2 separate regions of the Homo sapiens genome follow, and region 2 is linked to region 1. The links come from fine-mapping of genetic effects on gene expression. A gene starts in region 1. The other region holds a variant in brackets. All regions are shown on one strand. Distances are between the middles of the regions.

Region 1 (5,520 bases):
TACCTGTAAAATGCCAGAAAAAAAGCCTTTGCTTCATTTGGGCTAGGGCCCCAGTTCAAAAGAGGAGTTATTTACAGGAAAACACATCCTATGTTAATTAACTTTAAAACAAGAGAGTTCAAATAACAGAAATGACTAAATTAATTCTCACATTAGGATACAGCCCCATGATGCAGTCACTTTTCAAGGATCATCATTTTCTTTTTTTTTTTTTTTTTTTTGAGACGGAGTCTTGCTCTGTTGCCCAGGCACAATCTCGGCTCACTGCAACCTCTGCCTCCCAGGTTCAAGCAATCCTCCTGCCTCAGCCTCCTGAGTAGCTGGGACTACGGCACGTGCCACCAGGCCCAGCTAATTTTTTTTTGTATTTTTAGTAGAAATGAGGTTTCACCATGTTAGCCAGGATGGTCTCGATCTCCTGACCTCATGATCCACCGCCCTTGCCTCGGCCTCCCAAAGTGCTGGGATTACAGGTGTGAGCCACCGTGCCCGGCCCATTGTTTTCTTTAATACTCTCTTCCCTCAAAGAACTAATCCCTTCCAGACATATAATACATAGCAGGAGAGCTGACATTTAAAATCCTTCCCACCTCAGAGAATCTCTCAAATCTGTTTCCTGAGCAACAATTGACAGAAGCCAACAATCACTAACGCTGACTAGCTGCCGTGCACCCAGCACCTAGTCATCCCTTCTCTAAAGGTTCCCTGACCCATTTCTTAGGAGACTTTAATTGATTCTAGACCCAGCACCTTGGATATTCTTGGGAGTACACCAATTCTTCTCACATTATCTTGGTTTTTGCTCAGTTAATAAGGTGTGCTCATCCCCCAAAGTAAGCTGTTACTAACCTAGGGTGGTGAATAGGGAAAAGCAGAATCACTTAGGGTGAGTTGGACTAAAATATTTCGTCCAAGAAAGGTTGGGTGAAACACTGTGGGAAAGCAAAATCTTGGGAACAACCTAAGTGACCATCAACAGGGAAATGACTGAAGTACCGTCAACCACTCAGTGGTGCCGCCACGTAAAAAATGAAGCAGGCTTATGAGTACTGGTAAGAAAGCTGTCCATATCACAACATGACTAAGGTCCCGATCGATGTGTAGTATGACCCCCGATCTGAGGAAATTAAAAATACATAAATACAGATACAAATAAATAAAACCTGATATATCCAAATAATAGATAGAAAGTTATCAAAGAAATTAATTGTATTTACTTCTGAAGGGCAGAAACAGTAGAAGGGGGAAACACTTTTCATTTTACATCTTTCTGCATTGTTTTCTAACTACACACATGTATTACTTTTATAACAACTCAAGAGGAAGAAAACTTCTCAGGCTTTCCCCTCCTGCCCAAAAACCTTTCTGAGTGAAAACCCCTAACCCACTTAGGAAAACACCCTTTTATTACTTCTTCTAGCTCCCAGCACCCAACGTCTTTACAACCCAGGTTTCTAGGAACAGACTGTCAGTGGGCCTTTTTCTTTCCTTTTTTTTTTTTTTGAGACAAGTCTCACTCTGTCGCTCAGGCTGGAGTGCAGTAGTGTGATCTCGGTTCACTGCAACCTTTCCTCCTTCTGGGTTCAAGCAATTCTCTGCCTCAGCCTCCCGAGTAACTGGGATTACAGGTGCCCACCACCATACCTGGCTAATTTTTATGTTTTTAGTAGAGATGGGGTTTCACCATGTTGACCAGGCTGGTCTCGAACTCCTGACTTCGGGTGATCCACCCGCTTCGGCCTCCCAAAGTGCTGGGATTACAGATGTGAGCCACCACGCCCAGCAGTCAGTGGGCCAATTCTTAAGGCTGGCTCTCAAAGATGAACCAGCACCACAATTTACCCGGCTTATAAATCCTGTCAGCTTCAGAAGACGACTTACCAAACACAAATTTATCCTCACCAGTTAATAACTCCTTTTCTTTGCTCAAAAACCCAGTGAGAAAAAATAACTCCAGGCCAGGCACAGTGGCTCATGCCTATACTTCTAGCACTTTGGAAGGCCGAGGCGGGTGGATCACCTGAGATCAGGAGTTCAAGACCAGGCTGGCCAACATGGTGAAACCGTCTCTATTAAAAATGCAAAACATTAGCCAGGCGTGGTGATGTGCGACTGTAATCCCAGTTACTCGAGTGGCTGAGGCAGGAGAATCGCTTGAACCCATGTGGCAGAGAAGGTTGCAGTGAGGCGACAACGCGGCACTGCAACTCCGGCCTGGGCGACAGAGCGAGACTCCGTCTCAAAAAAAAAAAAAAGAAAAAATAACTCCAGTGCACTGCGCCCTTACTTCCTATCTAACATTGTGCCGAACGTTATACACAGATCCTCCTCCGTATGATCCTTAGTTCAGGATCATAAACTCTTGATAAATTACTGCCCCAGGAACCTCCAGTGACATCAACCGCTGCTACCATTTGTGGAATTCTGCCGGCCAGACACCCCACACTGCATTCCCTCACAACTGATCCTCCCGATAGCCCATGGGGTAGGCACTGTTATTTCCATTCACAGATAAGCAAAGTGAGGCTCGGAGGGCGGGGACTTGCCCAAAGCCACAAGGATGAAAGGTAGTGCGATGACTCAACCGATAAAAATAATCCCGGTTGTGGTGGGGGGGAGCTGAGCCCGACTCCTCCCACTATGCTGCCGCGGCTCCGAAGGCCTAGCCCGAGTGCGGAAATGGGCTTCTAGGGTCCCAGGACGAGGTCCACCTCCAGAGCTGCAGTGAGGTCCAAGTCAGCCCGAGGAGCCCGCAGGTCCCACATTTCAGTCATTTCCCTACCCCAAAGGCAGGGACTCCCCGCTCCTGGGGCAGGCAGCCACTGTGGCCGCGAGCAAGCGTACTCGGGTTAGGAAGGAGAAGGAAGGGGACAGGGGGAACGTTCACCTACGCAGCTGCCACCTCGGAGGACGGGGGAGCGGGGGACGAGGAAAGATCAGGATAAGACCCTAACTCCCACAAATGACTCCAGGAAAGGGAGACCACCACTCCCCGAGCTTTGGAGCGCCGCGCGGGAACCGGAAGTCATGCCCCGCCCGGAAGTTAAGAGGAGGGGCATAGGTTGGAAGGGGTGGGCCGGGTCTCTCTAGCCTCCGCGGTACTACGCAGCTTCATGGTTTTAACTCTTGGTGGTCTTTTGACCGTCCTCAGTCCTTACCGTGCGGAGTTTTGGATACATTCTTAGCAGCTTTTTCGCTCCGGAGAAGTTCTTTATCTTTCTGAGCCGCAGTTTGCCCAACTGCAAAATGGAAAGAGATGAAGCAGGAATTAAGATACTCTAGGAGCTCGCCCACAGCTGATTCAGGGCCCCATTCTGAGGTTACACCCTTAAGCCTTTGCACCACTCAAAGGAAGGAAACCAAGAGAGAGGGGTGGCTGGCTGCTGTTTGGAGACAGTGGTCCTTGTATTGGCGCCCCGCGGAATCACTCCAGATGAGTCAGTGGATACAGTCTATAGGTCCCGCCTCATTGTACGCAAACAGCAGTGGGCATATGGCCGTGGGGGGTTGATACAGCCTGTCCGGGGTGGGACTCTGTGTGTATGGGAGGCTAAATCTCAGCAGGACTTTTCCAGTTGCTACCAGACTACGCACTGTCGCCTGATGGTTAAGAACTGAAGCTTTAGCCGTGCGCGGTGGCTCACGCCTGTAATCCCAGCACTTTAGGAGGCAGAGGCGTGTGGATCACCTGAGGTCACGAGTTCGAGACCAGCTTGACCAACAAGGTGAAACTCAGTCTTTACTAAAAATACAAAAATTAGCCGGGCGTGCTGGCAGGCGCCTATAGTCCCAGCTGCTCGGGAGACTGAGACAGGAGAATTGCTTGAACCCGGGAGGCGGAGGTTGCAGTGAGCCGAGATTGCGCCATTGCACTCCAGCCCGGACGAGGGAGCAAGACTCCATCTCAAAGATGAAGCTTTGAAGTCATACTGATCTGGTTTGCGTCTGATCACACAGGTTCAATGACACAGCCGGCTAGAGGAAGCAGAGATGCTAACCACTGCAGCCCCGATCTTAACCCTGAAGGGGAGGGATTGAGCTGTTAGAGAGAGGTACTCAGTTGACTTCTCCCTCTCTCTTTCCAGCTGGCATATCCGAATGGGCTGAGCTACCGGATTAAGAGGGACACCCCAAAGCCCCCATTGCTGGGTTATTGCTCCAGAGCCAATGTTCTTGGGGAAAGGAAGATATGCCCTTTGTCAACATTGCCACTGCTGGTCTGTAAACTCCTAGACGGCCAGCTGGTGGTTCACAAACCAGGACTCCTTGCTCTGGCCCTACCCCTACCTACCAGAATGACCGTGAACCCTTCCCCACTCACTCCTACAACCAGGTTTCCATCTCCTCTCTCAGCTTAGGTTTCCCTAACTGTAAAATAAAAGGGTTGGACTAGGTTAAGGACTTCCTGCTATTTCTCTCTCCCACACTCTAAGGTTCCTTAGGAATGCTTCAGAAAACAGCAGGGGTTGGGGCAAGGATGCCGCTTGAGTCCCAGAGCAACTCCAATTTCATAGGCACATAAATTTATGTGAAAGTATATACGTTTCGGCTTGTGTAAGATTATTTTATCATCCCAGGTAAAATTCAGCCTTTGTGCTTCATCTTTCCCCACCCTCCTGCTCACTCAGTTTGCTCCAAGAACACTGACCTTCTGGCTATTTTGCAAATCTGACAATCTGACAAGCTCATCTTCACTTCTTTTTTTTTTTTTTTTTTTTTTTTGAGACGGAGTTTCGCTCTTGTTGTCTAAGCTGGAGTGCAATGGTGTGATCTCGACTCACTGCAACCTCTGCCTCCCGGATTCAAGCGATTCTCCTGCCTCAGCCTCCCGAGTAACTGGGATTACAGGCACGAGCCACCACACCCGGCTAATTTTTTGTACTTTTAGTAGAGACGGGGTTTCGCCATATTGGCCAGGCTGGTCTCGAACTCCTGACCTCAGGTGATCCGCCCACCTCAGCCTCCCAAAGTGCTGGGATTACAGGTGTGAGCCACCACGCCCAGCCTTTTTTTGAGGCAGAGTCTCATTCTGTCACCCAGGCTGGAATGCAGTGGCATGATCTCAGCTCACTGCAACTTCCACCTCCTGGGTTGAAGTGATTCTCTTGCCTTAGCCTCCCAAGTAGTTCAGATTACAGACTTGCACCACCCTGTCCAGCTAATTTTTGTATTTTTAGTAGAGACAGGGTTTTGCCATGTTCCCCAGGCTGGTCTCGAACTCCTGACCTCAAGCGATCCACCCACCTCGGCTTCCCAAAGTGCTGGGATTACAGGCGTGAGCCATCGCACCCGGCCTCATCTTCACTTCTTTTGCTGATCTCTGCTTGCAGTGCTCTTTCCTGAGATCTGTTCACCCAGGTTCCAGTTCAACTGTAGCGTCTCCTTTTCTGCCCACCTCCTCTATCCCCCGACCCCGGGCACCCTTCCAATTCCTTTATAACCTGTTACTTTGTTTTTGTGATTACCTAGTTATTTTCTATCTCATCCACTAGAGGCAGTGTCCACAAAGCTAAGGACTTT
Region 2 (5,000 bases), 68 kb before region 1:
CTGCACCGCGGCACAGGCACACAGAATACAGTGAGTGGATGAAGCACCCTGTAGGCTATTGAGACCAAAGTCCTTACCTCTGCCTGCTTACATCTCTGCACTGCTTGAGACTGTCATTCTCCAATGTCTCCAGTGCCAGGGAAGGGAACAGGTTTTTGATAAATAATGACAAATGAATGTGTCATGAATATGCATGCACAGATAAAACTTTTACATTACTCTCTTGGGAGCAATGCAAAGTGGAAAGAGATGACATAGTTATTCAAGAGAAAGCAGCTATCAAAACTGTAAGGGAAAGAAAATTCCAAGTAGAAGTCAGGAGACATCTATTTTACTCTCTGTATATCCTCAGTGCCTTAATTGCTTTAAAAAAACCTATTTGTTGAATTTACTAATTCACTGTAAGAATGAATGAATAGGCCGGGCGCAGTGACTCATGCCTATAATCCCAGCACTTTGGGAGGCTGAGGAGGGCGGATCAGGAGGTCAGGAGTTTGAGATCTGTCTGGCCAACATAGTGACACCCAGTCTCCCTTAAAAATACAAAAAATTAGCCGGGCGCAGTGGCAGACACCTGTAATCCCAGCTACTCAGGAGGCTGAGGCAGGAGAATCATGTGAACCTGGGAGGTGGAGGTTGCAGTGAGCGGAGATGCCACCACTGCACTCCAGCCCGGGCAACAGTGCAAGACCCCGTCTGAAAATAAATAAATAAATAAATAAATAAATTTTTTTAAAAAAATGAATGAATAGCACTGACTTGGGATCGGCTATATGCCATCTCTGGGCAATGGAATACGAGAAAGTGTAAATGCGCTTTCCCTTGCCCCTCTTTGGCCCACCATAAGCAAGTCCACACTCAAGCAGCCACTGCTCTCTGGAACTAGGCTCCAGAATGACAAACACAAAGCCCACCTGAGCCCAATCTGAAGGCTAGAGACAAGTTCAGCTGACCCATGAATGAGAAAAATAAATGCTGTTTTAATAAGCTACCGTTGGCATGGTTCAAATGCAACATTATTCTGGCAAGTGAATAAAATAAGGAATTTTTTTTAAGGTGGAGGCACTTTGAAAAAAGACTCATAGTAGTAATTAAAAGTATTCATTCTGGCCAGGCGCGGTGGCTCACGCCTGTAATCCTAGCACTTTGGGAGGCCAAGGCGGGCGGATCACGAGGTCAGGAGATCGAGACCATCCTGGCTAACATGGTGAAACCCTATCTCTACTAAAAATACAAAACATTAGCCAGGCATGGTGGCACATGCCTGTAGTCCTGGCTACTCGGGAGGCTGAGGCAGGAGAATGGTGTGAACCCGGGAGGCGGAGCTTGCAATGAGCCGAGATTGCACCACTGCACTCCAGCCTGGGCGACAGAACGAGACTCCATCTCAAAAAAAAAAGTATTCAAGCATTCAAGCAGCCCTGGAAAGAAAACATGATTGGGCCATGTAATTAAATCACCATGATCTGAAGTCGGGTAGATACAGAGTAAGACTTACAGAAAACAAGTGTGACATAAAGCCACTTCCCTCCAATAATCATTCAGAGATGCCCTAACCATCAGCCCTTCCTGAAAGATGATGGAGTTGCTACTTCCTGGTGAAATGTTGTCCCTTGCCCCACAGTTATATAACAAATTTCTAAATTTGTACCCAGCAAGGACTAAGTTTCAATCCTTCTTGAGCAGGGCCCTTGTTTTGCGAGTTTCTTAGCACCCAGCACCAAAATAACCACTAATTTACCTCACAAATGGAAGAAGAAAAGGAAAATAGTCCAAACCTAACAAGTCAAAGAAGTACCACTATTTAAGCATTCTATGAAGGTAACAATTATGATAGCACAAATTTAGTGACAACTTGCAGGGCAAAAGGAGAAAAAGTACTACTACATTAAATGTACACCAATGTTAACAGGTATCCTAATTACAATATGAAAATGTGAGAAAAATACACCTCAGAATGAAGGAAATATTACAATTGTTCTTTTAAACCACAATCCTTTTCTTCCCCTTTAGAATACACTCCCCTTGTGGCATAAAGTCCAGCTTGAAGAACATCGCTTTAACTATAAAATCTATTTCTGGCCGGGCGCGGTGGCTCACGCCTGTAATCCCAGCACTTTGGGAGGCCGAGGCGGGCGGATCACGAGGTCAGGAGATCGAGACCATTCTGGCTAACACGGTGAAACCCCGTCTCTACTAAAAATACAAAAAATTAGCCGGGCGTGGTAGCGGGCGCCGGTAGTCCCAGCTACTCGGGAGGCTGAGGCAGGAGAATGGCGTGAACCCGGGAGGCGGAGCTTGCAGTGAGCCGAGATCGCGCCACTGCACTCCAGCCTGGGCGACAGAGCGAGACTCCGTCTCAAAAAAAAAAAAAAAAAAAAATCTATTTCTAGGATGTTCAGTAAAACACTTATAAATAGCAATAATATATTAACATCGTATTAAATACTATAAATTCTGACACAAACTAAGCCTGTAAGGACTATTTTCAATAACCCTTTCCAGCCTCTAAATCATACTCCCTGGAGAATATCACTCACCTTCTAAGCCACGACTATAAGCAAGTTTGTTACGTCAAATAGAAAACAATATTTAAATGGAAAACCTAAGCTGCATCCACTTGCTACCCAAGTTCTTCTGACATGCAGAAATCAATCTGAAAATATTTAAGAAAACATTAGCTTCAATCAATCCCCATCATCCTTGTTCTTCTGATACACGGATAATTC[G/T]TTGACACAACTGTATGACCTGCTTTATTTCACTTACTCATTTATAAAATAATATACCCATCCAATGACTACTTCTAGAGCCATATCATGTCAAGCATTGCTTTAGGACAAAGATATAGCAATAGTCAAGGACCTATACGCCCCTGACTACACTAAGGATACATATGTCCCTGCTTTCCAGGGTATCACATGATCCAGGTATCTCTCCCTAGTATAGTCAACAAGGAATAAATAAGATGCATTTCTTGGTTAGAACTGTTAAAGCTTACATCTGCCTCTTCCTAACCCCTTCTCAACCAACCCAGCTTAATTCTAGCACAGTATGCAAATCATGCCAAACATGACTCCATGCAGAGAACTATCAAAATGAGGCCACAGTGTACCAACCTTAACTGATTTTAAGGGTTCTTAGTTTCTAAGATTCTCATGCAGATCAGTATAATGTCCTAAAGGTAAATAAACCTTTCTTGCTACCTAAAGAAAATGTATCCCATATTCAGATTCGCAGCACAGAACCTGTATTCTGATAGTAGTAGTTTGAGATAACCAACTAGGTGTGGTGATTCCCAAACTTGGCTACATTTTAGAAATGCCTGGAAAACTTAAAAATCACATTGTTCAAGCTGCACTCCAGTTGGAGAACCACTGATGCAGAAAACTTGGGGGAAAATGAGCTGCTTTTCAATGATCTATGGATTAAAGGTACACTGACATTTCCTTCCACCATGAGCAGTGAGCTTCCTGAACACTGCTTCACTAAGAATTATTATGGACCTACTTGGTATTTAAGGGAAGGGTCAAACTTAGAGGAGAAAGCACAAACCTGAACATATAGAGGGCTAAATATTATCTCAAACTAAAATGCCAGAAAATAAAAATAATAAAGCTTTAAAATTTTATCCCAAAGTTTGTTAGAAATTGATGTTATCAAGAGTCAAATTCCCACTCCTCAATATCTGAAAAGTAAGAGACGGAGGGAAAATAACAACCCTCAGGCTGGCTTGTGAAGGGTTTTTGTTTGTTTAATACATCTGAAAAGAATGCATATACAAAGAATTGAGACATGAGAAAGCATTGGTTCAACACTAATGCATCTACAAGAATTAGGTTTGGGAAGGTGGGAAAGATTACCTCAACATTTTTAAAAATTGGAAACTGCAACCAAAATAAGCTGAAAAAATCCCTATTAACACTTAAGAAGAGTCTGCATTAAGAGTCTTTCCATGATTTTTATTAAACTAGAGAGCCTCACCTGGCTGCTCTAGGGTTCCTCATATGCAAAACAGAAATAAGGGGATTCCCCTGACTGGTCCCCATGTTGTTAAGTGTTCTCCCCACCCCCACCCTACCCCCAGCTTCTTAATGAAGCAGGCCTCCATCCTCCTAACTTGAGAGGATGTGAATCATTCCACAGATGTCTGTCTTCTAGCACCACCCCTCGTATTTCCTCTACATAACAGGTCTTCAGCTGCATTCTAGGAACACCATATACTACTGAGCTGCAAATCTATGCTAAGCATATAAGACAATGACTGAAAGGGAAAAAAATTTTTTTAATTACAAACTCAATTCATTTGGTGCATTTCAAAGGTGCAATACTTTTCTTCATTTATCAGTGAAAGAAGTTAGAAATTAACTTCCCAAAAAAATCAGCAAATGGCAAACAAATGTCCTTGAAAGTCACAGTCACATATAGTGCGTCCTAGAAAAGAGGAGGGGCAAGATGGGCTCCACCCACTTTCATGAGTTTCATCAAATACTGGATCTACTCAAGGGTGGAGAGAAAAGGCAACTTTCAAAAAGGAGTATGTTATTAAATGAGGCATTTACTATACTCCTTCCTAAGAGCACCAGATGGGGAACATGTTTTCTAAACTAGATCTAGGAAGTGGAATGTGGAATCAATCCGTCCTCCTCCCCTTAAGGGCTAACCACTGGTTAATGAATTAAAAAAACAAGACTAAAAAACAAACCCCACACACACTCCCCCCCAAAAAAAAGAGGAGGGAAAAAAACAAAACAAAACACTAAGATGTCCCAGATTACTCTCCAGAGTGGAACCAGGGAGCAGCTTCAACAATTCCAATTAGTCTGTTACAGAGTCATCCACAAGCATGCCTTGCTTTTAAACAACAAAAAAAAAAAAAAAAAAAACACACACACACAAAAATTTTTTTTTTGAAACAACAAAAAAAAATAGTACTAATCACTTTTCTGACAATACAATTACTCAAAATTAACTAGTACTGGGAGGGGGAAGGGGGGGGCCAT

Evidence for each region.
Region 2: its variant is fine-mapped to the expression of LINC00339 in NK cells (Gilchrist 2021, PIP 0.95).

Annotation. Positions count from the first base shown.
Region 1 is chr1:22,023,011-22,028,530 of GRCh38, reverse strand. It overlaps LINC00339 (long intergenic non-protein coding RNA 339), which reads right to left and starts at 3,340. Exons shown (of 2, transcript NR_023918.2): 1 at 3,159-3,340. It overlaps LINC01635 (long intergenic non-protein coding RNA 1635), which reads left to right and starts at 2,483. Exons shown (of 3, transcript NR_110692.1): 1 at 2,483-2,567; 2 at 3,565-3,725; 3 at 4,086-4,537. RefSeq lists enhancers at 2,361-2,655, 2,733-2,842, 2,454-3,055 and a silencer at 5,492-5,520.
Region 2 is chr1:22,091,677-22,096,676 of GRCh38, reverse strand. CDC42 (cell division cycle 42) reads right to left here. Exons shown (of 6, transcript NM_001791.4): 6 at 1-5,000. Among named protein-coding and RNA genes, the nearest start is that of CDC42, 41 kb to the right of the region's middle. The variant G/T (reference allele first, on the strand shown) is at 2,730.